Regions from separate parts of the Homo sapiens genome. Here region 2 is linked to region 1. A link means that fine-mapping ties the variant in region 1 to the expression of a gene that starts in the linked region. Tissue or cell type: whole blood. Region 1 holds a variant in brackets; the other region holds the start of a gene. All regions are shown on one strand. Distances are between the middles of the regions. Region 1 overlaps HIVEP1 (HIVEP zinc finger 1). Region 2 holds the start of HIVEP1 (HIVEP zinc finger 1).

Region 1 (16,047 bases):
ATGGCGAAACTCTGTCTCTACCAAAAATACAAAAAGCCAGGCGTGGTGGTGGGCACCTGTAATCCCAGCTACTCAGGAGGCTGAGACAGGAGGGTTGCTTGAACCCGGGAGGGGAGGATGCAATGAGCCAAGAGCGCACCATTGCACTCCAGCCTGGGTGACAGAGTGAGATTCTGTCTCGAAAAAAAAAGCTGCTTCTTCTTTGCCTGAAAAATCCCTATTTTTTTAAAAAAAATTTGAACAGTTAGCTAAAGTATCACCACCTTTGGAGTATGTTTGCTGAATTCTTCTCTCTTCCACCTACCAGTAATGTTAGAAACTTCCTTCTTTAGAATTGTTCATAATTCTATGGTAATACTGATACTGCAGTATTTTCCTACTGACAGATTTGTAAATGTTTATTAACCTGTGTTGCATGCTTATGAATCTGCAGAGGCCAAATACTTCTGAATATGCAGAGTCGAACGTGATATGCTTACCTATTATTCTAATCAAGTAAATGACTTTTTCCCATTTTATAAAGCTGATAATTCTAATGAGACTGATTCCACAAATTACCCCAAGTTACAGTTTCATGACCTTAAATTACTTTATAAATCTTGACCAAATCAACTTACCAAGTATATGAATTATTTTGTGAAACTTCTCTCTAGTGCTAATGGTTCTCACAGCTACACTGGAAGACAGCTACATAGCATGACAGGGGCGTGTAGCTAGTAAGCTCAAGACAAGTCTAAATGGCTTTCTGCTTATATTTCAGGATGAAATACAACTATCTTTGATTATCTACACCTGTTTCCCTGCATGAGGAGGAACAAAGCATAACCATGATTTCCTTTCACTTAACAAGAAAAACAAAACCTCAATATAAGTAAAACATCAAAGTAAAACCATGATCATCTGTACTACTAAGTAAAGACTTATATAGTTAGCTGAGAAAAAGAAAAGTGCTCAGGGTAAATCATTTCTAAAATCTTTCAAGATAGAATCACTGCAAGACTCTTGGTAACTCTTATCAATGTAACTCCTGGGGTAAATATATCACCCTGTCTTTCAAATAAGACATTTACAGCACAATTTGTCACTCAAAATTAAAATATTTCCAGTTAAAATATTTAAAGGTATCAAGACACATGGAAACAAATTTGCGCAAACCATATCTGAAGATAAATTATATTTCAAGTACCTTGCTTAAGCTGCTTTTCCACTTGCTTGAATAGACCAATAAGTCTGACTTGGAATGGGTAGTTATTGCTTGACAGTATAGTGATTTTCCAGTGTTCTGTTTTGAATTAAGGAGAGCAAGTGCAACTTTTGTGGGCAAACCGAGTGGATTTGGATTACTGGCGCTTACTGTCCAATCAGTATAGGCTGAAGTTTTCTGGTCCTTCTGAGGCAAATGCAACGACTTCTGCCTTAAGAGATAACACCATGTAAAGTTGGTTGTAGTTTTCAGGCTAGGGAAAGCCAGCTGCTGGGTGTCCTTGATGTTAAACAATGAAAGAGAAGTGACTGGCTGTTGACTTTGCTCTTGGATGTTCACTTTGTCACCTTGATTTTTAACCCCTGGAGACTTCCTTTCTTGGTTATTGTCTGTACATTTCAAAGGAGAAATATGAGTATTTTCTGAAGGAGCAGGTGAACTTCGAACTGTAAGAGTTAATGATGTGGATGACTTGATGTTTTCAAATTCCTGCAATTCACTTATAGGTTCTATAACGACAAATTTAGAGCATCCTGTTGATGAATTATCAGCTGGTAAAACATTTGTCAAATTAACAGCCTCATTACTAATTTCAGGTTGAGAAAAAACATCCTTTTCCAACATCACACCGTCCAGGGGCTCTGTAGTACAAACCTGTCTCACTAAAATAGGCTTCTTCTGTTTACTAGCTTCATTAACTCTCGAACTCAAAGCCTCTAAAGGTCTCACGTCTGTTGCACAAACAGCTCCATTTTCATCTTTGGCCCGCTTCTGGTGCTTTTCCATGGCAATGTCTAAACTATTTGCTGGGGAAAGCATCCTTTTACTCGAAGCTGAAGATTCTTGTTGAGGGGAAAGTCGACCAACAGATATTTTCTGAGTTATGGGCAAGGATTCTGATAGAGAAGAATTTTGGCTCATCTCTGAAAAAACATTTTCACATAGAAATTCCTTCTCTGGGTTTGGCAAAGCATTCTGATGACCTTTTTGTAATGTTGGCACAGAATTTTGTTCTTCACTGATTGGCACTACACTATGATTAGTCTGGCAAATTGGCTGATTGGGCAGATCTTGGGTCACTAGTATTTGTGGCAGGGATGTGAGTGTAGCAAAACAGTAAGCAGGAACACTACTCTGCAGGCGTATGGGCAGCATGAATGATGATGGCACCTTCTGCACCTGACTTCCAAGGGGCCTGAGCTCTGGTGGTAGCAGAGGATGCGAATTAGACATGCTGTCAATTAATTTGGTTGGTAATGTTGCTGATGTCACACAATGATCTGTTCCAACTGGATCTGAAATAACTTGATTTGGCAAAGAATGCACAGGATTAGAAGAGCAAGATGGGCCTGAAGTGAAAACCTGACAATGCAATTGGTATTTGGGAGCAAAGCAATCCTCACTTTTAGAAGACCCAGATAAAACAGAATTTTTATCTGGCTTGCTACCCTGCGTAGACACTTGCAGAGATAGCTGTGTGCTCTGGTGGCTAGGCGGTGCATGGATTTGATTTAACAAATTGATATCACAGAGCTGTTGAACAGGAAAAACGTTGGTAGAGCTGGAGTTTGATGTTTCTGCCTGCAGATCCTTAACCTGAGTCTGAGAGTGCAAAGTATTTGCAGAAAACTCAGCTAAAGATGTACTAGTGAGCTGAGGCCCCTGATATGGCACTGCATTCACACTGGGAAGAGCAGTATTTTGGAAAGATGTTGGGTGTACAGGAGACAGATGACTATCTGGGGCTATGTTTAAAGATATTTGCCGTACCAGTGGGCCTCTCCTTCTTTCTAAGAGAGGCACATGCCCAGTCACTCCCACTCGAGAAGGTGAAGATGGAGGCTGCAATTCAGTAAGTGGTGTTGTCTGGGGTGGGGTGATGCTTCCACAATCGAATGATTTGCTTCTGAGATCAGAGACCTCCATTGACGTTTGCGTGCAATTAATCTGTTCTGATGCAGTACGCCTCATTTCCCGGTGACATCCAGGAACATTCAGAGTATTCAAGCCAGCTGGAATCATAAGAAACTCGGCTTTATTTAGAAAATCGATTTTGGGGGAAGCCTCCGTTTTAGAAACGTCCTCTATGTCTAAAGAGGCTGAGAAACTTGAAGTGTGAGATAAACTGCTCTCCCTACTTAGACTCCTGGAGAGAGTGGAATCAAAGCTCGATTCTGTTGAGGAATGTTCTATCTCAGCCAGACGGAGCCTTTTCTTTTTGGGTGGCAGTTTCTCTGTTGGCAATTTTGACAAGGTTTCACTACGCTGGGGCCAACTGAACTTCTCTGACTTTTCTTGATCATGGCATTGAGCTTCCAGGTCTCGATCTGGTTCTTCTGTGACCAAAATCTCTGGAACTTGGATGTTGTGCTGCCGGACAAGTCTTGAGGGCTGTCCTAACACATGTCGTTCACTTGGACTCTTTCTGGAGCTTTCCTGAAGTTCTCCTCTGAGAGCGTCTGATAGTGCAAGCTGGTGAGGATGAGACCCGTCCCGAGAAGGGTGACTTTCCTCTTGGGAGATTCCTATCACTTTTAGAGACCCGGACTTCCCCGTTCTATTCAGCTCCTGGAAAGAAACTGGGGAGGCTCTTTCAAAAGGCTCAGGCTTGTCAAATGAGTTGGGCCTGCTCAGGGAGTTGGTGTGCTGGATGACAGAGATTCCAGTTCCGTGTCTCTGCAGTTCTATCTTGTCCTGGGCTGCTGAACTTATCTGTTGTTCCATGATGGTCGACAGCTTGGGATCCATGGTCTGCTCAGGGCCCCTGGCAACAAGGTGAATATGGGAGTTTTGCAACTGTATATTTTTATGCTGCTGGTCACTTCTTATGGTAACATTATGTTTAGGCAAACTGGGATTACAGCCCAGAGCATTCTGAAACTGAAGGCCTTCAGAACTTTTTGGAGATGTTCCACTTTCATTTTGCTGAAGTTCTTCATCATCCCCAACACTTTTCATTTTCCTCCTTTTTCTTATCTGGGGCGTCTGTTCCCAGATGCCGGAGGACCCAGCGACTCTGTAGTGTAGAATCTGAGGCTGCAGACCGCCGGGCACAGGGCTGTGCTCAGGTTCTCTCATGGCTACCTTTGTTTTTGGTCCATGTAACTCAGAACAGTAAAATTTCTTATGATTTTCAAAATTTTCCAGTTTCCTATACCTGTTTCTACAAGTTTCACACTCAAACATTGTCCCTCGCCCTTGATGAGACTTCTTTTTTTCTATATGTGGGCCTTGTGCCAGTGCCTTGCTCCTCACTGACATGGCTTCACCAGCAGCATGGCATCCTTGGTGGCTCTCATCCAGGGACTGTCCAGTACCAAGAACATGACTTTCATTTGCTGAAGAGTCTTCTATGGCTGCTTGTCTCACAAGTGTACGGGGATGCCCACTCTGGGGCACAGGAGCGTTAGGTCCCGATACAAAGACATCATCATAGAAAGCGCCAATTTTGTCATCAAATGACTGACTTCCTCTTAGTGGATGAGGAGGAGGTATTATATTTGCAGGTACTGCTGAATAACCTGTGGTCGGCATGGAATTACTTCTTGTGATAGGTAAACAGTCAAGTGAAGGTACAGACAGAAGAAACACTTGCTTTGATTTTTCAGTAGGGGTGAAAGGTGACTTCGGTATATCAGAGCTTGAACTTGTTCTCCGTCCCACTGGTTTTAAATCAAACTGGAAAGAATCTTTAAATATGTATGATTTGGGGGAATCAATGCTTCCTCGTCTTGACAGTGAGGTTCTCCGCGGCTTCACACTATCCAGTTGCTTGTCATCTACCAAAGCTTCATTGTCTGAGATAAGCTTCGATATCCGCTCCTCAAGTGTTTTTGTGGCCAAAGGTGGGCGCATCTGACCTGGTAAAAGCAATGCCTTTTCCCCTGTGGGCAAAGCAGAGGGTGTTGACGTGGTGACAAGAGCTGCAGAGGGTCCGTTACTCCTTCCAGAGTCTTGTTCTGTGCTGGGTAACCTTCTGGCAAAGGGAGTTGGTGGACTCACTGTTTGATCGGCACTTTCAGAACGTGAAAAGTAACCAGAATCCGTACTTCCTAAACTTCGAGGACTCAGGAGCTTTCCTTGCTGCTCTTGGGAGTAATCGGTAGCCTGCTGCCTTTGTAGCTGGGCGTGTACCGTTCCTACGTGAGAGTCTTGCTTTCCTTCCAGTGGATTCATGTCGCCTTTCTGGTGGGAATTCTCATTAGTCTCCAACCTGGAGACTCCACCCTGGGACATGTTGGCTGAAAGTGGCTGTACGTTTGTCACCTGAAGGTCCTTCTGCTTTTGTGCACTAGAAAGTTCAGGCTTGGGATCCATGGCCTTTGGACTGTCAGTTCTTAAGGGGGACACAGTGACATGGTGGACCACAACTTTCGGTAACTCTGTCACAGCTTGTGATTCTGCAGATCTGTCCTGTAGCAAAAAGTCACCTATCACATTTTCTGGACTGCTTGGAGTGAAGCTTGATTTTAGTAAAGTTTCAGCATTTGACATCCTCTTTATTATGTGCACAGGCTGCAGCTCCATGGCGCCCAGGTCATGCTGTCTCTCATCAGTGGCGCCTTCCTCCTCGCTCTCCCCACTGTCTTCTACGTCTGAATGAATACTAAGTGCTTTGGGGGACTCGTGGGACAAGAACAAGCCACCAGCATCTGGTTGCAAGACAAGACCCAGTTTGATAGTATGTGCGTGGGATTTCTTGTGCTTATACAGATTACTTTTAGTCTTAAATGAAAATCCACAAGTCACACAGGGATAGGGTCGCTCTCCAGTGTGGGAGCGGATATGCTTTAAAAGCACACTAGGCTTTGCACATGCTCTATTGCAATACTCACAAATATATTTTCCTTGTTTTTTTGGCTTCTGATCTTTCAGAAGAAGATTGCACATTTGCTCTACGCTTTGATTAACAACAGAGGCAACATGAGTTGAATTATAGATTGGCATGGGGGGCGACTGTGTAGAATTAGCCGGACTTATTGACAAAGGTGAAGCAGAATCCATTTGCTGGTTTTGAGGAGTAACCTGAGATCTACTGGAAGGTGAAGTTAGGCCTACAGATGATGTCACTGCTATATTATAAACCTGTTCAAGTTTGGCATTCTCTTGATTTTGCAGATTTGTCAGTGATCCTGTGAAACCTGAACACCCCGGAAGCTGTTGATTATGTTGGTTGGATTTGGGAACAAAGTGTTCATGTTGATGATACAAATGAGAAGCTGACTGCATTGCCCCTTGCTCATTCTTCTGAGCAGCAGACATATGGACTGTGTATGAGGTACAAGAAGACTGTGATTCAGCAACCAATTCCTGTGAAGTCTGATTTGGGGCATCCATTGAACTGTTTTTTAATTTGGGAGGGGAACGTGCAGTTTTATTTGGCCTCAGTTTTTCTGTCTTAATTGCACAAGGTGAGCCCTTTTGTGACAAGGTGCTCAGTTCTGGCTCCATTGCTTTCAGTAAGACATCGAATGCAGTGTTTGTATAGGAGGGGGACGTAGTGCCACAATGAGAAGAGATGCATTCGCTATTGTCAGTCCTGGTTTTACTTGACAAGGAACTTGAGTCACATTGTTCATCGAGGTCACTGAATTTGGCAGGATCAGCGCCTTCGGATCTCCATCTACGCAGTTCAGATGGTTGCTGCAGAAACAAGGGCTTCTTTGGGGAGACAGATTCTTCAGATTTTGAGGCTTCAGCAATTATTCCAGGTGTTTCTCCATTTTGTTTGGTAAACTGCTTCCCATTTTTTACAGGAATATAATTCTGTTTCTTGTGAGACTCCGAAGCACTATGAAGAACGGCGAAAGATGACTCTTCTGTATTTTGTTTATGTTTTGCCTGAAGAGGATTTCTCAGTGGGGATTTTGGTATTTTTTTCAGGTGATTCTCAGCTACGATCTTTTTGCGTTTCACACCTTTAAGGGATTCCGAAGTTCCTTTAACACCAGCCTGTAAGATTTCTGGAAAAAACAACAACAACAACAAACAATTGGTAACATTGTACATACACCAACTATAATTTTTTGAAAATTAAGATTACTATCATAAGGACATTATGACAAGTGAAGAAAGTATTTAAGGAAAGTCTATTTTTTAAATAAAATTGCACTTCTGCATTCCGGAAATTGAACAATGATGCCAATCAAAATCTATTGAAACACTCATTCAAAGACCTAAGTGTGCATTTCTAGAATGCTTATGTTCCTTTCTTGAATAATCAACATCCTGGAACTAGATCTTTCAAAACTGAATTATCTTTCCCCTTTTCACTATCATACTTAAACAGTGCTCCATGGGGTTAAAGAAACTGGTAACTAACAAGAAGTTTTGAGCTTGTCTTACAGCACTGCAGATAAAGAAACAGCTTGTTAGAACTCCCTCTGCTTGTAACAAAACTGGTTGACTGGTTGAAGCTGGTTGGAACTGGTATGGCTGATTGGGATCTGCACAGAATAGACTTCTTGCCAGATGAGGGACTTTCTGATATCAAAGCCAGTATTTTCACCACAGGTTTCACACCAACTCCCTCCGAATTTGCAAAGGCAACCCATGAGGAAGCACGAAGAGACAACTGTGCCTGCTCAAGGGACTTTCCAAACCTCCCCTCCCTTTCCAACAATCATTAACCAACCCCAAAACTCCTCCTCCAGCATCTCCTCCTTTTATATACTGCTTTAAGCTGGTAAGGGAAGACAGAATTGAGCCCATCTCCTGCATGGCTGCCTTGCCATTAATCTTTCTCTCTATAAAAATCCAGTGATTCAGTGTTTGGCTTTTCATTGTGTGCAGACAAATGGACCTAGATTGGCTTGGTAGCAATACCTGAGGACTCTGTCTACACAACAGTCTGAGAAGGCTGGCCAAAAAGAAGAAAATTCAACCCTTTAATGCTGAGTATTTGACTGTCTTATCTCATTAAGGTTCTTTTAAAACAAACTTTTCAGCAAATTTCTAAGTATGCAAAACTGATATTTTCAGGAGAAAAGGGGCTGCTAATATAATTTCTAGAGCAGACCATAGTCAGGACAGCCATGAAGTATTGCTGATGTAGCAATTATATCAATGAACAGAAAATTATGAAACTAAAATAATCCACTTATTTGTGGTTTCTTACCAACAAAATTAAAAAGTCATAAGGTTGTAATGGGCCTTGGTTTAAAAAAAATCACCACTTTAACTCAACAAAATATTCAATGGCTATGTTTCTTTGTCATTAGCAATAGGTAGGGCAGGTAGGCAGGTAGGGAGATAGGCAGAAAGAAGGTAAAACTTATTGCAAGAGAAATGAAATCACCTTAATTTCTAGTTGTGTTGGAAATAAATCAGTATTTAAGTGACAGTGCCCACAATCTATCAACTACTGTATTTTTGAGCAATAATTACTTGCCATGATTTACTTTGGTTTCCATTTGTTGGATTGTTGGGCATATGAACAAAAAATATTCAATCGTATATTACTCTATTTGTAGAAAGCCAACTACTTAATTCTCCACTATTTTCAAATAGCTGTTGCAACGTACATATTTGAAATTCATATTAGACCAAAATGTCTACACTGTAATAACTACTTATTGAGAATAAAATTTACATTAGAAATATTCTAGTAATATTGTGACATCAGTTTATATGCTCTCATATCATAGTTTAATGAAAAAAATGCATACTATTCCATTAAAGATATATTTACCCACCATAATAAAAAAAAAAACAAAAGGGGGTCTCATAACTAAAATATTTGAGCTAAAGAACAATAGAAAAAAGTATCAGTATTATTCACTTTTACAAAATGTTGAACAAACATTTTTTTATTCTCCAATCCACTCACTCATGAAATGATGTTTTCCCACTGGTTTTCCCTTATTAAGATGAATGTAAGAAAGTCAGTGATGCACTTTTTGACTCTCATTAACTCTATCAGGCAAGTAGGCAAAGTGAAAAATGATGCTCATCAACCTGGGCTGAGTAGTCTCTCTATCCACTTCCAAAAGCTAGATGTGGGTATCATAAAGGTGAAAGCCAGGAGGCTATTAAAATAAATACAAAAACAGAGATGAGAAACCACTTGGATGAGAAGCTAGCAGAGCTGAAACACCATGGACTTAAAAATAATCTACCCATGTCAGGCCCCATCCAGGACCTATTCAACCAGAGTCTTGGACAGGGTAGGTATGCCTGTTTTGCTCTGCTTCACAAACATTTTAAGATAAACTTTTATTTTTAGATAAAGTTATGTTATTCAAAATTAAATAATGTCTTATACTCCAAAGAAAAATGCAAAATTTCAACCCAGAAATACTGTATGTGATTTAAACAACAACAACAAAAACTGTAACCTTGTACTTAAAAGAAAATGACATTGAAGTTAAGATAAAGGAATTGCTAAACTTAAGATCCATATTTCTTTATAAGAGAAACTATTTTCTATAAATCTACTGGGAGTTAAGAATTGGAAAAACACATATGTTAAATGGAACTTTTGAACTACACGTTTTGATTTTACATATAGATGACCTCCTCTCTCATTTGT[C/T]AAAGCTTATAACACTTACATTTTATCTGTATCGTTGTTTATACTTAGTTATCTATTTAATTTTAACACTTGACTGGTGCTATTCCCTTCAAAACTTTGCATACTCCCTTGTTTTCTGGCAATTTGGTTTACACCTCAGAAAACTTTTCTTCTATGATATCTTCATATACGTTTTCTGGTCAACTTTTTTTGGAATAAAGTTCTTTTATTTAGGGAAAAGGTTTTTACCTTTTGTTTTCTCTACAATTTTCTAAAGCTTTTCTCTTATGTTGACAACTGAATTGTCACACCATTAAATTCTTTACTGTTTCATATTTATTCATTAGTTTTGGACTGATAGTATTTTGTTCTCATTTTATTCCCTTAGTTCCATATTTCCCATTTCATCTCATTTTATTGTCTCATATTAAGTTTGAACTCTTGCTTAAATACATTTATGATCTTTAGTTCTGCACTTAAAAACACTTGTGTTTCTGGAGTAATATTTCCTTTAAGGCAGAATTTGGGCCTGTCTTCCACATTCTCAAGGCTCTTCTACTGCCTGAGATCATGGGGAATGGTGATCTCACTCAGCACTCAGCTGAGAACATACTCCTGACAGTCTTTTTTGAGTTGTGTTCATTCTTCTGGATTTTGTTGGATCTTCTTTCTTTAACAGGTTCACTGTCCTTGTTCAAGGGATAAAGCCCACTCTACCACTGGTGCTTGGGAGGGGAGGAGGTAGTGAGATGACCCTGGACCTTGGATCAGTCTAAATTCAAGGACTTTTTTTTTTATTGTAAGGAGGGGAGAGGCTAGTGGAGGGGATGTGAGAGATGCAAACAGAAGGACGATGGCAGGCATATGTGAGAAGAATACTGCACTATCATTTTAGAGGTGGAAGTGAAAGCAAGGTGCCTGCCTCTCCATACATTTTTCACTCTCCACCCCTTGATTCTCAAGATCTGGGGCTGAACAGCTCAGAGTGGGCAGCTAAACCATCAGGCTAGGAATTATAGACAAATACCTTCTCTCGAGAACCAAGGCCCTAGAGTGGAAGGCAGCAGACCCTTGGGTTTTCAGATAATGAAATACCTGGAATAGTTTTTTAAACTTACCCTCATCTTGATTAATTTTAAATCTATCTATTAAAGAGTGACTGGAGTTATTTTCTCTTGTCCTCTTATCTATAGAAAAGAGCACAATCATCAAACCTTGTGGCTATATCTACAACATAGTCAAGAGGATGCATAGACCATAGTGCTTCAAAGCAGAAATAAAATTGGTATGAAGAGAAGGAGGAGACAGCTGTTCACCATTAGCACTTGTGCTTTTCCATCATTTTAAAGGCAATTTGTTGTTAAGGTGAATTAAATATAAAATACATTAGAGGACACAAAGAGAAAGACCAAGCAGTAGAAGGCAGCCCAAGGATTCACATGGAGCTTATGCAATGTGATCACTCCCCACCAACCCCACCAACCAGCACCCCCCGCGAGCCTCTGCCTCAGAGGAAGTACACTGGCTTCTATTCACCACCCTGATTCCAGAAATGTTGTCATTTTGCATGTTTGTTTTTACCATTACTAAGTTTAGACATACTTGGTGTACACCAGCATTGAAACACAACCCTCTCTCCTTACACAGGGAGAACTTACAGTCAGATTGGGAAGGGAAGAGAAAGATTCAAAATAGGAGTCAGGCAGCCACTGAAAACTGTATTCTCCCACTTGTCAGTGTGCTACCGGTAATGACTGAAAATCAAGCAGAAACTCTGAGGTATCAACACATCAAAAATCCAAACACGACTTCATATAACAGATACAAAGCACACTCAGGAGAGGGACCAAAATCAGCAGCACTGCCCCTGTCAGACCACTGACCTGGGCTTCGAAAGGAAAGCCAGCACTCTTCATCAGTTAGGGAGTCAAGAACAGCTTAGAAAGACCACAGGGGCCACTTTGTTAAAAAAAAAAAAAAAAAAAAAAAAAAAGAATAGTTGGGGAAGTATAAGTTAAGATTCCTGTGTTCTATGTGAAGTCACTGACACTTTATTTTCCAAGGCACAAATCTATTTATTAGGGCTTCTATGTTTCTTTGAAGAAGAGCACCAACGAGTTTGAAATATCACTGTCAGCTGTTTTTCAGGATTACTTCTAGAGAGTAACAGATTAAAAGCAAACAGATTAAAAGGCTCAAGAGTGCATCTTAGTTGCCAATAAAGTGTGGTAAAGCATATTCTTATGGTAAGTAGTAGGGATGATAAACCACAGCTCAGAGTGTGCTTAAAATCCTGTCTTGATTGAAGGTGAACCTCCAAATAAATCTCTTTTCAGATTTACTCAGAGACATGTCAGCTGAAAAACTTCAGATCTCTTTTGGGCCTTAGGAACATAAGTAGTACCTGTTTTCTAACAATTGAGATCATGCTCGGCCAGAAGGTCAAGAGATCAGACCAGGAGGCCATTCAGAAGGCTTTTTTCAGTAGTTTGTGCAAGAGTTAAAATGCTACCCTGAACTCAGGCATCAATCTCAAACTCAATATACATGCACAGAATTGTAAACTGTAGCTGGAAATTCAGGACAAGAAATTTTCAATAGGAAATGGTTAGGCTAATTATGGCACAGCCACTTAACATAACATTATACATCCATTTAAAATAATTACAAAGATTACACAGCAATATGAAAATTATGATACATTAAGTGTACGTGCACATTCTTTTTTTTTCCCTCTAGAGAGAGGTCTGGGCTAGAGGCACAGATCTGGGAATATGCGGTGAGAGCTGTTTTTGTAAAAGGACATAAATGATAAGCCAAAGAGAATATGCTGTGGAGAGGGGAGGTCTGACATGAGAAGGATGGGTAATCCCTACACTTAGGGGTGAGCTAGAAACAAAAAGAAACAAGGGGAAATCAGAAAGATGAGACAAAACATGTGATAGTGGAACAGCCAGGAAGTGGGGGTTTAGAAACTTTTAAAAAGGAAGATGTGGCCAATAGTGTTGAATATCACATTCAGATACACAGATGAAAATTAACAAGAGGTCCCTGGGCTTGGTGGTCACTGGGACTAGGAAGACATCATTATCTCTGAAAGCAGTGTCAGCGGGGTTCTGGAGGTAAAAACCCTATCATATACCAGTAAGGAGTGAAGGAGGGCATGAGGACGCGCAGGGCCCGCAAATACAGGCGCTCTCCTGGGGATATGGCTGTAAAGTAAAAGAGAAAGACAAGACGTCAGAGTCAGGGGAAAGGAGGGCAAGGGAAGTCTTCTTTAGGATATGGGAGGGTTGAGTGTGTTTATAAACAGGTAGTGAAAGTTGGCAGAGAGAACCAGAATAAAGATACAAGACAGAAAAATTAATTAAATAAAACAAATTTAAAAATTAATTAAACAAATTAAACAAATAATGTGTGATAAACAGGTATACTCAAGAAGCTACCACATAGATGTGGGAACAACTGGTGAAGATGGAGGTAAGGAAATGCCTGGGAGAAGTTTCGTGGCAGCAGCACATCTGACTAAAGCCTACAGAGACAGGCAGAGAGGGACAAGTCCTTTCCAGTTAGGGAACAGCATGACAAGGTGAGCAGGAAAATGCATAAGACTCACCTAAGAGCAGGAAGCCAACCTTGCTGTTCATCTATTAGTAGAGTGGGAGATAGGATGGAAAAGGTATTCTACAACCAGGTTACTCTAGGCCTTGAACACAAAGCAGAAGAGACTGGAATTCACTTAGCAAGCAAAAGGAAGCTACATTCAGATCATCACCAAGTTCTTCCCATTCCTCATGCAATGTAATTCAAGCATCTTAACATGGCCAAAAGACTGCAGGGACATCTGACTCACAACTCTCCAACCTCCCTCTACACCATTTCCCCTGACTCACTCCGCTTCAGCCTGCGGTAAACTTTCTCCTCCTCGAACTGCCCCATCTCGTTGCTGCCCCTGGGATTTGTACTTGCCATCTCCTCAGCATGAAAAGCCCTCCCTACACCCAACTCTCAAGATGACAGGGTCATTTTCAACCTTCAACTCACCGCACCAGTGTTACCTCTGGGCTGTTCCTCCACTCTACCTAAGGTCGGTGTCCCTGTCCTGCCCACCCCACCCTTCTTTACAGTCATAATCTAGAATGCCCTGTTTGCCTGTTTACATGTGTATCTTCTGCCTTTGAATTAGGATGGGCTGAGGGAGTCCACACTCACTTACAGGCTCTTTAACATGGGCCCGCACCAGGTGCTCACATGAGGGGCAGGACGAGGCCAGAGAAGTGCCCCAAGCGTGTAAGCAGAGTGGACAGGCATGAAGCCAACTCTCCCTGAGAGCTTCCTCCCCCTGAGCAAAGCCTTGGGCTTTAAGCTGATAGGGAAAGGGCAGCAGATGTCACCACAGGGACAGACAGAAACACCCTGCAGCCGGGAGAAGAACAGAGGAGGACACCCTCTACCCCAGGGGAGGCAGGAAACTGTCCTGAGACCAAAATCCCACACCAATAAAATTTCAGTCCCTTGCCATGGGGGAGGGGCTGGAAACACAGGGACCGCCAAGACTGAGGCTGGACCAGGAGATGGAGCAACCCTCCCCTCCCCACCCCATCCAGAAGCCCAGCCCTGTGGGGGAAGCAGCAGCAGCCCACTGCTAGGGGGGCGGTGAGGAGGTGGGCAGGGACTCCCCCAGCCTATGGCGCAGGAGGCTGCAAGCTGAGCAGGGGCACTAGCACTGAGAAAAGCCCCCAGAGTCCCAGTCCCCGCCATAAGCACAAGGAACCGGCAGGAAAAGGAAGAATAAACAGGGTAGTAGAAATACATGAAAAAAATAATGGCCAAGAATTTTCCCCAAATAATGAAAACAACAAACCATACATCCAAAAAGCCTAAATAACCCATAACTAGGATGATTAAGAATATGATACGAAAGAATAAGCATAAAGAATAAAAAAAATACTGAGAAAAAGAAGAAAAGGGAGAAAAAGAATTTAGACAATATATTCAAACTGCTGAAAACCAAAGATAAAGAGAAAATCCTGAAAGCAGCCAGAGGGTAGAAAAACATTACACACAGAGAATAAAAGATAAAAATTAAAGCAGACTTCTCAACGGAAACCATGGTGTGATATTTTTACACTACTGAAAGAAAAAAAAATTGTCCAACCCAGAATTTCATATTGAGAAATAATTTAGCTTTCAAAAATGAAGGCCATAGCAAGATTTTTTTCAGAAAAACAAAAGCTGAGAGAATTCGTTGTCTTCAGGCCTATACTGAAATGTTAAAACTTAAATGTGGATCTATACATATAAATGAAGAGCTCTGAAAATGACAATAATAAAATTATAAAAAGAACTTTAAGAATTTTATCACTTCAAAATTTCACCGTTTAAAAGATAATACAGTGTAAAGTTGTACTGTCCAATATGGCAGCATGGTGGGTGAAATAATGGCCCTATAAAATGGCCACACCCCAACCTCTGGAACCTGTAAATGTTTCTGAATGTGGCAAAGGGGACGCTGCAAATGTGATATGGTTACGTATTTTGAGATGGGGAGATTATCCTCGGTTACTGCAGGACTCTTTCAAATTTAATTACACAATCCCATAACAATGGAGAATCTCTTAGGGCTGAAGTCAGAGGTATTGAACAACTGAAGAGGCAGGAGAGAGACAGGAAATGAGACCTGACCTGCCATTGCTGGCTTTCAAGACGGAGAAAGAGAGCTCCCGTCCAAAGAACATGGTAGCCTCTAAAAGCTGGGAATGGACTTCAGCTGACAGCTCACAAGAACATGATGACTACAGCTACAGGACTAAATTCTGCCAGTAACCTGAATAAGCAGGAAAACAGAATTTCCCCTGGAGCCTCCAGAAGACAGACCTGCTGACATCATCATTATAGCCAGGTCCTGTGTCAGGCTTCTGACCTACAGAACCACAAGACAGTAAGTACTGTGTCAACTGCTAAGTTTGTAGGAATTTGTTACGCAGCAAAAGAAAATGAATACAGGTATACCTTGCTTTGTTGAGCTTCGCAGATACTGTGCTTTTTGCATTAAGGGTTTGTGGCAACTCTGCATGGAGCAAGTCTGTCTTGGCACCATTTCTCCAAACATATGCACTCACTTCTGGTGTGTGACATATTTTTTCTAATTCTTGCAATACTTCAAACTTTTGCATTATTATTATATCTGTCATGGTGATCTTTGATCAGTGATCTTTGTTTTTACTGTTGTAATTATTTTGGGGCTGCATTAATTGTGCCCATGTAACACAGTAAACTTAATAAATGTTGTGTGTGTGTTCTCACTGCTCCATCAACTGGCCATTCCCGTCTC
Region 2 (16,047 bases), 110 kb after region 1:
ATGCAGGCTTAATTTTCAAATCCATGCAAACTTTCTATACTCTTCCATGATAGATTCCGGTATTGCACATTTTTATGCTTGCCTAATACTTTAATATGTGTATACGTGTGCACACACAGACAAGTATACGTATTTTTCCCCAAGTAAAATTCACATTCCTGAAAGATACATGTTACCCTGTGGCTTTGCACATCCGTAGGGATATATCTGTCCCAGCAGGAGAACCAAGAATAAATCAAAGAAAGATTACATTCTAAGAGGTGAAACTACCATGGAAGCATAAGAAAAATATAATTTGAGAAAGTATCAGGTATCTGCCTTTTAATACGGACTTGATTACCAAGCACAAGACAAACATTTCAGACTATTTCCCCCAGGAAGCCTAAAAAGAGGCGATGGGTTTCCTGAAAGCTCCTGAGCTGACGGCAGAAACAGTAGGGGCAAACTGGGCTGTGACTCCTCTTCTGGTCTCCCAATTTCCTCTCCCCGCATTTCTTATCTCATCGCATTAGAGATGTCTTCTAGTAAAGCAAAGCAGTGGATCACAGGTAGGGCACAACAAACCTGATATTCCAAACTGTCACAATGAGATATTAAAGATACGCTCAAAAATTAATCTCAGGAGCTGATGGTTACCTGCTTACTCTAACCCCCACATCCTTCCCAGGGCTCGAGTCCTTACAGACATTGTGAGGAGCGCGGAAGTTTCTAGGTGTCACCGCCGAGCACCAACCCCTCTGTCCCTTTGCTTACTCAGGGTTTCCCATGGGGACCTAGAGCTTCACTCCCGTCCCCCGCTGCTGAGTGAGCTACACTGGCTCAGAAGCCGCCGCTTCCCTGAAGTCTTCCCCTTCCCCATCAGAAGTCCCACTGAGGTGGCTTTAGTGTGCTTACTAGAGCTAATCTATTCCAATCTTTTCTTTAGTGGCTGTGAGTTCTTAACTACCTTAGTCAAACAACTTCCTAAACGCTCACAGACAAGTCAGACACAATTTATTCCAAGTTCTCTTTGAAAACTTTAAAAATATCTTAAAGAAGCAAGTTTTCTTATTAAAACTTTTAACTCTACATATGAAATGTAGGCTTAAATCTGAGGGCCTTTCCTGATCTGATTCCTCCTGATTCTCCTGCTCCAGTATCCTGCCTCTCTGTCTCCTTCTCATCCCTCCTGAAGAGAACTTCTTATGCTCTAGAAGTAGAGAACCATTTAAAGTTGCTCAGAGTCCCCAAGTTATTTCACAACCTGCTACCCCAGGATGAAATGCACTCACTTTGCCTTGTCAGCTTCGCAGATAACTTCCCAGCCTTAAGAACCAAATCCAGGTGTTAACTTTCCTTCCCTAAATCATCATTCTGCTTCACCCCAAACTGCGCCCCCTACAATGGGGACAAAATAATGACTCCCTATCTCTGTGGAATCTCCATACTATTCATTTCTCACCATAGTACATAGTTACATGTTTACCTATCAGCTCTTCAACTCCATTCTTCTTTCGAGACCTGTGTTTTATCATTTTATCCCTATCATAAGAACATGAAGTACATGAAGGTAGTAATGAGAGGTGACACCGTGCTGTCAGCCCTCACTCGCTCTCGGCGCCTCCTCCGCCTTGGTGCCCACTCTGGCCGCGCTTGAGGAGCCCTTCAGCCCGCCGCTGCACTGTGGGATCCCCTTCCTGGGATGGCCCAGGCCAGAGCCGGCTCCCTCAGCTTGCAGGGAGGTGTGGAGGAAGAAGCGCGGGCAGGAACGGGGGCCGCGCGTGGCGCTTGTAGGCCAGCTAGAGTTCCCAGTTGGCGTGGGCTTGGCAGGCCCCGGGCAGTGAGGGGCTTAGCACCCAAGCCAGCAGCCGCGAAGGGTGCGCCAGGTCCCCCAGCAGTGCCGGCCCACTGGTGCTGCGCTCGATTTCTCGCCGGGCTTTAGCTGCTTCCCCGTGGGGCAGGGCTCAGGACCTGCAGCCCGCCATGCCTAAGCACCCCCCACGCCATGGGCTCCTGCACGGCCCCAGCCTCCCCGATGAGCGCTGCCCCCTGTTCCTAGGCGCCCAGTCCCATCGACCACCCAAGGGCTGAGTAGTGCAGGCACAAGGCGCAGGCAGCTCCACCTGTGGCCCCAGTGCGGGATCCACTGGGTGAAGCCAGCTGGGCTCCTGAGTCTAGTGGGGACCTGGAGAAACTTTATGTCTAGCTAAGGGATTGTGAATACACCAATCAGCACTCTTTATCTAGCTCAAGGTTTTTAAATACACCAATCAGCACTCTGTATCTAGCTAATCTAGTGGGGACCTGGAGAACTTTTGTGTCTAGCTCAGGGATTGTAAACACACCAATCAGCACCCTGTCAAAATGGACCAATCAGCTCTCTGTAAAACAGACCAATCGGCTCTCTGTAAAACGGACCAATCAGCAGGATGTGGGTGGGGCCAGACGGGAGAATAAAAGCAGGCTGCCGGAGGCAGCAGTTGCAACTGCTTGGGTCCCCTTGCAGACTGTGGAAGCTTTGTTGTTGTGCTCTTTGCAATAAATCTTGCTACTGCTTGCTCTTTGAGTCTGTACTGCCTTTATGAGCTATAAAACTCACCGCAAAGGTGTGCAGCTTCACTCCTGAACCAGCGAGACCACGAACCTACCAGAAGAAAGAAACTCCAAACACATCTGAACATCAGAAGGAACAACCTGTGGACACGCTACCTTTAAGAGCTATAACACTCACGGCGAGGGCCTGTGGCTTCATTCTTGAAGTCAGTGAGACCAAGAACCCACCAATTCCAGACACAGTAACAAACATGTGCTGAGTTGAACATTTATTTGATACAGAAAGGAAAAGAGCCTATGGCCTGTAAATCTGTGTTTCTCAGGATAGTCATTTTATCTAGAATGTTATGAACATATATTTTAAATATGAAAAATGTTTAATACTTATGGCCTAATAAATAACACCTTCAGATCAATCATGCACTCGTTCCTTCAACAAATATTTGGGCTGCCATTAGCTGCCAGGAACTGTGCTGGGCTAGGGCTGCTGCTCATCTGTATGCTGCACTTGTGCAAACTAGAACAGGGTGCCCTCCCTGGACAGATAAAGCAGGGCCCATGTCTCCAAATGCCCACCTCAGCTGGTACCCTTGGGTCTGGAGGCTTTTCCTACAGTAACAAATGAGAGTGAGTCTCTAGGGAGTTCAGATTCTAGTGAGGGGGACGGGCAAACACATTCAATTTTCAACGTTTTCTATATGACTATAAAAAATCAGATTTCCACACACCACACTTGTTCTCATGTAAATCTCCACCTCATTGAACACTGGTTACTACAATCATCAATTTGAACTTAGGCTGAGGCATCCACCTGAGGCAACAGAGATTTCTAGACAGGAAACAAGCACTATTTCCAGATTCACGGAGGCCATAAAATTGACTGCATTTTCAAAGATCACCTTATGGTGACTAGCCAAATTGATTTTACCAAAAAACATTTCAAATTAATTTATTTGATTTTTAAGTCACTTCTCCCCTACATACGCTTCAGAATTTTTTTTCTGTAATGGTAAATATTTCATAAAACACCATAGTCAGTTTGGAATTATTTGCTTTAATAGTTCTTGTTTTTAGCACTACTACATTCTTATCTCCTGAAGTTTAATATAAAAGATAATTGCTATTCACCATTGATATAACACGAGAACAATACAAATCTTTTTAAACAATAAGCTAGAATACACTTACTTTTCTACTATTAAAAGTATTCGCGGTTGATGGAAAACACACACTTTTCTGTCTTTGCATGAAATGTGTATCATATATATATTTGTGACCCACTGCTTCTTCGTGGAAAATAACTCAGTTTGCCTCTGACTTCTGCAAGTAATGGTCTGAGTGAATGCCTACAATTCTCTTCACTTCTTATCTTGTTAATCTAACTGATGGAGTGGTACAAAAATAAACCTCAAAAGAACTATGGAGGAAGAGTGAAAAAAAAACATAAAATTCTTAATGATCCAGTTGGCAAAGAATATTTAACCATTACTTTCAGATTCCTTGACCCAAATATGGTTCCTATTAACAAATAGCAACTTTCAGCCTTTAATACCCCATCTAATGGTTTGGAAGGAATGCACTGTAATTTCGTCAAATTCAATTCATTCATTCAACAGATATTTATTAAGTATCTCCTGAGAGACAGGAATTGTGCAGGACTGCTGGAAATGAGCAAGAGAAATAGCGCTCCTCACCAGGCAGGGTCAACATCTAACAAACGGCCATTCCTGTCACCAAAGAGATACTTTGTTAAAAGATTTACAGCAAGCCTTACTTCTACTTAATGCAATGCTTTACCTCTTAGATTTCTGGGATGAATTTGTTTAGTTCGAGGCATCTTCTTTGACTCAGGGCCTTCTTTTTCTTCTTAAAAACTGCAGATAAAGCAAGCCACCAAAAGGCAGCTCCATAAACTCAACATACATCAATTAATCCATGTGCTGAAAAAGAAAAAAACGGAGAAGCACATTTTACTACCTTCAGAGGAGAAAGATACTTTAAAAGTTACTGCCTAGCAGAGCACTAACCTAAACTCAAGAAAAAGTAACCAAGCTGGGCACCACTGCAAAAGATTACTAACTTTTAATTAAACAGAGGTCATTTTGTCAGTATCGGGACTTCTCATTAAGAAAACAGAAAAAAAACACCGTATCTTTATCAGACAAGAGTAAAAAAACTCACTTTGTGTTTTAAAACAACAATACCAGGAACAAGTAAAGTATCGCATCAGGCTACAAAAGGATTATGTTAGGCATGTATAGTAAATCTGCCCATTCATAGGGGCAGGGACAATGTCTTGTTCATCTTGTTTTAGAGTTAACTCAGTTAATACAAGGGGTTGCTACTGTGGCTACTCCAGTTATTCCAGACCTCTAGGTTCATGGTAGGACCACACTTTCTGCTTCCCTGTGTTTCCCAGGAACGTGTGAGGAGCTGTAGCTAACGACCTGTGAGCGGATGAGACTTCACTTCCAGGCTGGAGCATTTAGTTATTACCACAGCATGATCCTCCAGAGCTCTTCTCTCTCTGCCATGGGATCAGCACTGCTCCAGACAGCAAATCTGACACCACCACAAAGTCAGCTCTGGCTAACCCACGTGATCACACAGCATACGCCAGAAACACCTTTTTGTTTGCTTAAATAAGTGAGGTTTGAGAGTTATTTGTTACTGCAGCACAACCTAGCCTGTCCTGACTTACAGATTTTAAAACACAGTGATCTGAAATATAATAGGCCAAGATAAGAATGACCCAAAACCGAATCACCTATCTCCCCAAATCAGCCACCTCAGGCTCTTCCACAAGATTCTCAAGGATCTTAAAGCTGAAATTTTAACTTACTGCAAGAAAACTGAGAAGCAAAGCCCACTGTCACTGTTAAACATGAAACAATGTTTAGTCATTAAGCAAAGACACAAGAATAGAACAGTAAGGAAGGCTTAAAGCTTTTGTTATTAGTGGTACTGTAGAAGACAAGAGAACACTTATGAGCACCTACTATGTGCCTGTGTACTTTCTACACATTCCCTAATTTAATCTGTTAACTAAGAAGGTAGCTATCATTTATTCATTTTACAGATTAAAAAAAAATTGGATAAGTAACTTGTCCAAGATAAACAACTAAAGAATGTGGTACTGCATGACTCAGTTATATCCAGTGCTTATTTTGTGGAGCTGATAACATCTACTTTCAGGATTTCTTTCAAGAGGCGCAGCAAGTCATGACGACTTATCTTGGTGTCAAACCGGAGTGGGTTCAAAGCCAGGCTTTACCCCTTACTGTGTGGCCTTGTTCAGGTTACTTAACCTCTCTGAAGATCAGATTTCCCAACTGTAAAATTAGGAAATATTATCCACATCAGAAGGTTGTTATAAGGACTAAACTAAACATTGTAGACGCTTTGCCTGTCACACAAAAACGCTGAACTATTAATTCTCCTTAAGAAAGCCTATATGGGAAGGAATGTGTCTAACATCCCAGTATAAGGTTTTAGAAATTTATGGTTTCATTACAGCAAAGAAACAGAAGGTAAAGAAGGCCACGATTAACTTCAGTATTTTATCCCTGATCTGGCTGTATGTCAGCTCAGCACAAAATTATTTGCAATTTTTAACTACATGGTAAAATAATACAAAAAAAAATGATGGTCTAAGTATTTCATCTAGCATTGTGCTAAGTGATCTATAAAAGATAGGGTTTCTCAGCTCCTTGCTCTAAAGAAACATCCACTATCTAATTCAGGAAGGTTCTGATTCAATAAAGAATTGAGACACAGCTGAACCAAATAAATTGCATGAATGCTTAACTACGTTCGTTGTTAAACTTAAAGCTTTTAAATGGTAACGATATTTGGAAGTTTTTAAAGCGTGAACTCTGACTGTAATCCAATCATGTGATCCCATGGGATCCGGAGCATAAATGTAAAATATGCACATTCCCTGTCCGTAAAGGCTTTCTGCTACCCCGTTCATTGCCTACCCACTGTCCCTAGCTGTCCATCCCATATTTAAATCCTTGTGGGGGGAAGTGGGTATTTCCAAAGACAGCAGCATTGTAGCGACTAGGACGAGTGATAAACCGTTCCTTTACGGGAAAGAAATAAATACTACATGGAGCAAAAACATGACACGATCAAAAAGCGTAAAGACAGTTGCAAGGAGAAAAAACATGAATGAATGTGGAGGGCGGAGCCTGGGAAAACCCCTCTGCAACGCTGCACTGAACAAAGCGCTTCGCATGCCAGGAGGAGGGGGGGAATGGAAGTGCCAGCTCAGGAAGGAGCCTGGAGTGGATGCAGAGAGCTGAGGAGGAGGAGGACGAGATGAGGCGAGCGCGGCAGCCCTGAGACTCCTCCTCGCCGCCTGCTCCGCCGCCGCCCCCTCCCCTCTCCAGCCAGCAACTCCTTCCCGAGCCCGACCCCAAGGCGAGCCCGAGCCGACCCGCACCCCAACCCACCGCCCCCTTCCCAACTGCAGCTGGCGCGCACTCCCAACCCGGAAAGAAACTACCCAGGTGGCCGGGAGTAAACAGGCACTTAGAGCAAAGAACGAAAGGGAAAGAAACCCACAAAGCCGGGAGGTTGGGATGCCGAGGCCTGGTCTCTTTCACCCCCCACCCTCTTGCAAAATGCGTCTGCGGCTGGAAGGCGGCTGGGGAGGCTGGGTCCCTCTGTACCTGCTCGGCTCGCGCGCGGCGAGGGCGCCCAGAAGTGCCAAGGGTCTCCCGCACGCAGCCATCCCCTCTGCAAGGTCGGCGGTTGCACACACACGCACACACACACACACACGCGCGCCCGCACGCCCCCCGCCCGCCGAAGGGATGTGCTCCTGCCCCCCCCCCCCTCCGCCCCGCCGCCCTCCCCAGCTGCAGCGCCCCCGCCGCGGAGCCCGCGCCGAACCTGCTGCCAGGACGCCCGGCGGAGCCGCTGCCGCTGCAGCCGGCCCTGGAGCTGCGCTGCTGATGGCGGCGGCCGCGGCTCGGGATCTCCGCGACCCCCGCGCGGCGGCGGCGGCGGCGCCTGGGATCCCTCCTTCACTTGACAACCCCAAACACAAACATAACCTCCTCCGGCGGCCGCCGCTCCCCGGTCCCCCGCTCCGTCCGCCACCCTGCCGCCGCCCAGCAGCCGCCACGCTGAAGGCCGGCGACTGGCGCTCACACCACCCAGCACTGAAATATTAAACAGGGGAGCGGGCCGGGGGGCGGGGGGGGGAGCGCGGGGCGCGCGGGCGGGGGCCGCAGCCGCCGGGCGGAGGAGGCGGCGAAGCTCGCCGGCGCCCGGAGCCACGGCATGATCGCGGCCGCCAGGGAGCCGGGCAGCCGGGCTGGGGGGCGCGCGCCGCGGCGGGGCGGGCGGACAGACCCTGGGGCCGCGGGGCCCGGGGCGGGAAGGACGGGCGCGGGCTTTACCTCTCCCCCGGGGCAGAGTAGGGCACGTTTAGCGTCTTTGGGGCCGGCGGGAGGAACGCGGGCCGGGCGGCGCGGGGGAGGCAGGGCGAAGGTCGGAGGCTTTCCCGCGGGTGGGCGGGGCGGCAGGGGATCCCCGGGGGCGGGAGGAGGGGAGGCCGCGGGCGGCGACGCGTGGGCGGGGGAGGGGGCGTCCCCGCGGGGGCTGGGGTTGAGGCCGGGGCGAGGGGCGCGGGACGCCCAGGCGCCGGGGCCCAGCTGGGCCGGCGCGGCCGCCAGCTCTGACCGGGTGTAGGGACTGGATGGGCGCCCGGCCCGGCACGAACCCGGAGCCAGTGCCCCGGGTCTCCCCGGCGGGGCGGGCCCCAGACCGCGCCGGCCCCGCCACCTACCCGCCGCTTCGCCCCTCCCCGCCCCGCCCGGCCGAGCCGCCGCAGGGACGGGAGGGGGACGCGGGAGGAGGTGGCAGCGCAGCCCGGGGGGGAGGGGCGGGGTTAGGGACGCGGGGGGCGGGAGCCCTGGGTCGCGACGCCTGGGGAACCAGCACACGGCGGGGGCGGAGGGGCGGGCCCGGCCAGTCACGCGGCCCCGGGAAGGCCTGGCGGGGTCGCTCAGTTGGGGGCGGTTGGTCCGGGAAGAGGGACGGGACGGGCGGGGCCGTAGTTTCTCTTTACCGTCTCTTTACTTTCTACAGCAGGATGTGGGCCGGCCGCTGACGTCATGGGGTCTCCCGGCCCCGCCCCTCGCCCGGGCAGAATGGGGGAGGGGGAGGCGGGGGGGGGGGGGGACCCCAAGGGGGTTTCCTCAGCAACGCGTAGAAGGAAGGGGAAAGTCATTGTGAAACTTAAAACTCATTAACTTTGAAAAACAACTTTTAAAAAAACGGAGGGGGCAGGGTGTTGGTTTGGAGAGTGGAAGGGGACATGTTAACCCTGAACTGAAACCACTTTTTGGTGGCGGATGTTCTATTAAAAGAGCGAGGAAAGCCAAGGTTATTCCAGAGGCCGCTCCAAAGCCCCGCTGGTGCTTCCCAGTGCCGAAGCTGCGAGCGCAATTAACCCCTGCCTGCCAGCCTGACAGCTTATAGGGCCAACCCGGGAGGGGACTTCGGGGACAGAAAAGGGGGGTGCGGGGCTGGTCGTCGGACCGGGCTCCAGGGAAGAGGGGAGAGCGTGAAAGGGGAAGAGGGAGTAATTAGCATGAACCAAGGTGTGACCCCGGCTGCTAGAAAGCAGTAGAGAAAGCAAGGAGTGGAAATCCATGGCAAAGCAGTGAAGAGGGGCTGGACCAGGGTAACGAAGGTTTTCAGGGTTAGACCTAAAGAACGTTCGCAGTTTGGGGCACAGAAATTCCACAGGTCCACCTCAAGAAGCAAAAGTGGCTGGTTTAACGGGCCACCTCAAACTTGAGAGGAATAAGGTGAAACAAAATTGATGCAAAAAAAAAAAAATCCCTGATGAAACTAAACTGGTTTCCCCTTTTAAGGAATAAAAATGCTAAACGACCATACAACCACTAAGACAGCTGGCCATCTGTGCAAACTTGAATTGTTTTGTTCCCTTGGGCTTCCATAACGACGTCTAGGTTTTTCCTGCTGGAGTTGACCCCTAAAATTCCCCTGAGGAAATCGTACCTCTGGCTCATTTGAGCTAAGAAAAGCTCAAACCACCAGAATGGGAATGATTAAAAATGGAATACTCAGTAATGGCGAGTGTGTAGCCAAAAATAATATCATGTAAAGGGAGAAATATGCCTACTACAAAGTAAATTTGGTTATAAAAGCAAAGATCATCCAACTGTGTACATGTACAATTATGTCTAGCATACTAATGCTAACCCTACGATGAAATAATGCAATTTTTATTTTCATTGTGCTATAACCATCTCTCATTTGTGAAATGAAATGATATCCAATAGGTTGCAATCACCAAAAAAGTATATAATGTAACTTCCCAACTGGGTTATTTGAATCCAAAAGTAAACATGCATTTAACTGTGAACGTATAGCTATTAATCTGTCAGGAGAAAGGTAATGTGATAATGAGTGAAGTTTGTATCACTTTGGAAGTGAAAAATGCTAACTGAATGAATAACGTTTAACCCAATAATTGTTGAGCACAACATACTGTCAACACAATGTTTATGTAGGATTCAGCATTACTACGAACTTTCTAACAAAACATACATGCAATTTCGAATTACGATAGGTAAATTTTGACATTTCAACTATTTCCTTGAGCAGCAAACCGATATTAAACTTTTATTTGAAATATATACAATACAGAATAGTTTCCTAGTAAGTTTTTGAATTTTCTAAATGCAGTTTCTTTTCCTAATTCTGCCTACAATTCTTCCCAGATATCAGGATGCAGGGAAACCTGGCTATACTATAAAGTAGCTTCTTTAGGCTTGTTTTGTGGCAAATCCAATATATTTTCTCAAAATGTATCAAATAAACACAGCGTGGGAAAAAAATGAAGCAGAGGGTGAATGTGGAGGATGAATGTGAATGGTAAACTGCAGTTTCAACTGTCAAAAATCCTGGGACAATGCAGGAGCAAGTGACCATTCTCTGCCCCCAAAAAAGAGGGGGCTCCTGGAGGTCCATTTCTCTATGGTTCCATCCCCACCGTCCGCGTGAACGCTTCTGGAGCCCCCCTTGGGGAAAGTGGGGTTCGAGGGAGGATAGTGTCACTGAAAAGCTCAACACACGTTTTTCTTGGCGAACAGTTTGGAGAGGGCACAAAGTCCACCCCGGAGCCGCGTCCACTGGGCCCCGCGCCACCCTGCCCGCCCCCGCCGCTGCGTCCACGGCTCGGGTTCCCACGCGGCCGCCCGGCCGGGCCCGGCTCAGGCACCCCCCTGGCGCGGCCCCGCGGCCCCGGCCCTCCGCCCAGCGCGCGGCCCGGCAGCGCCGCCGCCGCCGCCGCCGCCGCCACCGCCACGCGGAGATCCCGGAGGTTCCTCCCCGCCGGCCGCCGGGTCACGCCGCTCGTCCCTCCCCTCGGCCCTCCGCCCTCCGCCCTCCGCGCGCGCTGGGCTTTCCCATCCACCGGCCGAATCCCCTCCTCCTCTGGGCAACCCGGCGACAAAACCTTCCCCGCACGCCCTGCCAACTCTGCCCCACGCCCAGGCTCTTCCCAAGCCAGGCGCCAGACAAAAGAACCGAGAGAAAAACTTACCCGAACTGCAACACAAAAGTCTGATCCAAAGCTTCCTGGGTTTAACTTTTAATTTTAAAAACAAAAAAGCAGAAACCAAAAGCCTCCTAGGTTGGAAGTGGGCGTGAGAGGAAATGCTAGAGGGAGGCGCTTCATTCCCCGGGCTGCCTGTGCCCCCCTTTCTGGCCCCTGCCCGGGGCTTTGATGTTATCTAGTGCACCGCCTCCATCGGTTTCTACCTTGGGCTCTGCGCCGCCGAGAAGATAGACAGATCTTCCGCACTTCACTTGCAGGTTCTGAGAGAGGCAAGCAGGTAGTCGCGGGAAAGGACCCACACTCCTTAGCCCCGCAGTGAGAGAGGAACATTTGCACGGGCTTCCTGTTGCTACCTGGACTGAAATGAACAATCCACCCCTCTAGTGATCCTGGAGACTTGCACCGTATGGTCTTTCCTGCTAGACGCACAGCGGGAGGCCTCCTACATTAGATTCATTTTCCCTCCACCCGTAGCACAAACTTGTAAGATGGTGGTGGAGTATGTTTCCTGAGGCTTTGTTCGGGTTTTAGATCTCAGTTTGGAAGGTAAATATTATTTCCCTTCTGAGACAGTCCTGCAGCCTTGAAAAGACAAGAATAAAAATCTAAAGGCAACAAATTCTATAACATGCTTTCCATACACCATAAATTCCCTTATGGGTCAAAATATCCGCACACTTTCCCCTCACGTTATGAAAAGCTTGTAACTGTTGATTTTCTTTTGTCTGGACACTAGCAGACACTGGATATAGTTTTTCATTAGGTTAGCAGTCTCGGGACCATCACTAACAAAACACTACAACAAAGAATTTTTTTTTTTTTAACAGATTACTAATAAAGAAGGACGGCAGTGTCTAGCAATCAGCCTTACCTGTGCCTCCACTTTACACCAACAGAAGCTTGTGTTCAGGCCTTGCCCTCTGGAAGATTACAAATTAATGGAGACAGGATAAACACATGGAAAAATACCTAGAGGGAAAAAAAGATATAAGAGGCTTATAAACAGAGCCAATTAAAGTTATACAGTTATTTACATGATCGCTGAGAGGCTTCTGCTTGAGTAGAGGACGGGGTGAGCAGAGTCCCATCCTGGGGGTGAGTTCTCAGTGGGATATTGAAGGAGAGAAAGTTCACGATTTGGCAGTGGTGGAAGTACAGCATTCTAGAGGAGGGAAATAACTTGAAGGTGAGAGCAAGTGAACTGTGTGTGATGGTTTTTCCACCGAGAGCAGAAAGTCTAAGCAAATGGGAAACAAGTAACACCCATGCCAGGACACTTGAGAGTGAAAGGGAAGGTATTAATAATTATACTCAGGGCCGGGCGCAGTGGCTCACGCTTGTAATCCCAGCACTGTGGGAGGCCGAGGGGGGCGGATCACAAGGTCAGGAGATCGAGACCATCCTGGCTAACACAGTGAAACCCTGTCTCTACTAAAAATAGAAAAATTAATTGGGCGTGGTGACGGGCGCCTGTATTCCCAGCTATTCGGGGGGCTGAGGCAGGAGAATGGCGTGAACCAGGGAGGCGGAGCTTGCAGTGAGCCAAGATCACGCCACTGCACTCCAGCCTGGGCCACAGAGCGAGACTCCGTCTCAAAAAAAAAATCATGCTCAGATGAGAGATGTACACCTGGATTGCCCCGGGGCCATTGGGAAGGGTGGGTTCTCTCGTAATGAGCTAGGAAGACAGAATGGGCAGGCAACAGGCAACCAGAGAAGAGCCTACTCAGTCATCATTTGGAAGGAATTAAGACATGATATTACAAACAGTTGGTAGCTATTTGGAGACATCTGGCCTGAGAATGGTCTTTTTAAGGAAAGTTATTGTTACTGATGGATTTAGGATCGATATGGAGGCTGGTTACAAAAACTGCAGTAACATTAGCAGTTGTAATAATGGTAGTGGTAGTGATTAACAGCTATTGAGCGCTTACGACTTGCCGGGTTTTCCTATATAAACTCATTTAGTCCCCGCCATAAACCCACACTGTAGATGAAGAAACAGAGGCTTAGAAATGCTACATAGTCTTCCGGAAGCTACAGAGCTGGTAAATGATAGAACTATGATGGGGATCCAGAAAATATTCAGATGCTCAAAGTTTAAAGATTATATTTTGTGAAAACCAGATTTCAATAACTTTATAATATTCTACATCAATGGAGAGAATAAGAAAAGGGAATTTTTTAAAGTTTTTCAAATTTCGATGTGTCATGAAAATGATGGGCATCCTGGCATGGTGTGAGGCTTAAGGAAAAGAAGAGAAAATGTGTTTGATTTTAACCATGTCTTGTTTTTAGAAGGATGATTTAATTCACATTTACGCCAGTACTGATACTGTTACCTGTAGGAGACGTGCTATTAGAGCAAACCACATCTCATTGAAAAGCCTCTCTTTCAATGGCAAGTAACGACAGTTTAATGGATATTATTTGGTGTACTATCTGTGAAGAGGGGAAAGAAAACTAGATGTGATTGATACCTGCAGTTCCTGAAAGAATTCCTCATAAGCTATGTCCACAAGTGGCATACTGAGGAACCCTAGAGGAAGAATAGCATTCAATGAAAATGACCCAACCTCATCTGTGATCTAACAAGGTGGTATTTTTGTTCCAGTGGGCCCTGAGTTAATACAGTGTCCCACAGTTCTAGAGGCTGGGAGTTCAAGATCAAGGCATCAGCAGGGTTGGCTTTCTCCGAGGCCTGTCTTCTTGGCTTGTAGACTGCCACCTTCTCTCTGTGTCCTCACATGGCCTTTCCCAGGTGTAGTGCTTATACAGAGAGAGGGAGCACTGGCTCTTTGGTGTCTCTTCTTTTAAGGTCGCTAATCCCATTAGATCAGTACCCCACCCTTATTACCTAATTTAACCTTAATTACCTCCTAAAGACTCTATCTCCAGATACAGTAACATTGGGGGTTAGGGCTTCAACATATCAATTGGGATGCTGGGGGGACAATTCAGTTCATAGCAGATACCAAGAGTATATTTACATAGAATTGTAGATAGAGTTAATGCCGGCCTAGGAAAGGGGCTTGTCAGTTGCTTGAGGAGGAGCCGAAAGACTTCATTCTAGACTTTCTTATTTCCATGAAGAATTACTCCTAAATAACTCTTAAAACATTGTTGTGTAAATACTCTTTCACATTTCTAGTAAAATGGTTCTCAAACCTCCTGTGGAAAGCCGTCTTGGTGCACACCTTTAGTGTGTTATAAATAAAGTGATTTTGTCGATTGCCAAAGGATTTAAGGGTTTTATTTTCCCCATTGTAATCACAATCTGAACACATGTAAATTAAACATGATATGTCCTATCTCAAGTGTGGATACCCCCTCCCCTATCCCATAGTCTCTGCCTCATCATCATTCATTAATTTCCTTTATAACATCGCACAGTCTACAATTATCTTATTGGTTTCCATGTTTATTATCTCTCAACCCTCTACTAGACTATGAGGGCCATGAGTGAAGTGGCAATGCTTTGTTCCTCTCTGTCTCCCCAGCACCTAGAACAGTGTTGAAATAAATGTGTGTTGAATGAATGTTGTAGTCTGAGGCCTGCTCACCTTCCAGTTTAGTTGCTAAGCCTTTCATATCAACTTAATTGCTTTCTTGCTTTTGCATTTTTCTTTAAACATCCTTTTTAAATGTTCTGGACTCAAAATTATTATATATAACACAGTTAAAGGGGATCTGCTCATTTTATAGACTGGGAAGCCAATATAAGGAGTCAGATGAATTAAATGACAGCATAACCAGCTGGTTCCTGGCAGAGCTTGACTGGAGAGCTCCCAGTCCATCCTCCCTCTTCCCTTCTTTCTGCTCCCAAATCCTTCCTCTTTTATGCCTTTCCTGATTCTTACCAGAAACTCCATTGCCTTTTGCTTGCTCTTAATCTTCATTCCTAGATTTTTTTAAAAAGTTTCTTTTCTGCTGTAGTTTTGATAGAGGTTCCATGGCTTAAACATGTAGTATGGATGGAAGGAAAGAAGGGAGGGAGGGAAGGAGAGAGGGAAAAAAGGAATATATGTGTATAAAATTAAGAAAACGCCAGGCACAATGGCTCATGCCTGTAATCCCAGCACTTTGGGAGGCTAAGAGGGGCCGATTGCTTGAGCCAGGAGTTTGAGACCAGCCTGGGCAACATGGGGTAACCCTGTCTCTACAAAAAATACAAAAATTAGCCAGGCATGGTGGTGTGCACCTGTAGTTCCAGCTGCTCAGGAGTCTGAGTTGGGAGGATCCCTTGAGTCTGGGAGATCAAGGTTGCAATGAGCAGTGATCGCACTACTGCACTCCAGCCTAGGCTACAGAGTGAAACCCTCCCTCCAAAAAAAATAAAAAATTAAATAAAAAATTAAGAAAAAATATGGCAGAGTAAGCGTTCAAAAAAGTGATTTATAAGAAAAGCTATGAAACATGTACTTCTGGCTTATTCAATCCACATTCCTTACCTTTTCTTTTTGAGTTGCTATAACTTTTTATTTAAAGAGGGTTAAGAATCAGGCATATTTTCAGTGACTAACAGAGAACTACTTAGTAATATTCTTCTGCCCTAGAGAGAATTCACCAGTTCCAGAGTCTCCTACTAATAAAGAGTACATATGATGCACATACAAAGAGGCAACATTGTGACTAAAAGCATGGGCTTAAGAGCCAGCAAGCCTGGGTTGAAGCCCAGATCTGCCAGCTGCATAATTTGGGGCCATTTTTTTGACCTTCCTGTGCCTCCATTTTCTGATCTGTAAAGTAAATGTAATTGGAGTCTTCACAGAATAGCTGTGAATATTAGATGAATTGGTGTTTTGAAAGTGCTGAAGACAGTGCCTGTCACATAGTTACAACGATCTCTCAGTGTTGACCAATGCTTTATTACATGTTTCGCACTAGACTAAGTGTGCTTTACGTGTGTT

What was found.
Region 2: it holds the start of HIVEP1, and the variant in region 1 is fine-mapped to the expression of HIVEP1 in whole blood (INTERVAL, PIP 0.98).

The regions. Positions count from the first base shown.
Region 1 is chr6:12,111,010-12,127,056 of GRCh38, reverse strand. HIVEP1 (HIVEP zinc finger 1) reads right to left here. Exons shown (of 9, transcript NM_002114.4): 4 at 1,187-7,167. Among named protein-coding and RNA genes, the nearest start is that of HIVEP1, 110 kb to the right of the region's middle. RefSeq lists enhancers at 7,659-7,768, 7,779-7,888, 7,607-7,901, 7,919-7,968, 12,678-12,727. The variant C/T (reference allele first, on the strand shown) is at 9,735.
Region 2 is chr6:12,003,951-12,019,997 of GRCh38, reverse strand. It overlaps HIVEP1 (HIVEP zinc finger 1), which reads right to left and starts at 7,686. Exons shown (of 9, transcript NM_002114.4): 1 at 7,432-7,686; 2 at 4,330-4,472. The coding sequence starts at 4,369. RefSeq lists silencers at 7,532-7,671, 7,852-8,761, 10,709-10,828 and an enhancer at 9,091-9,635.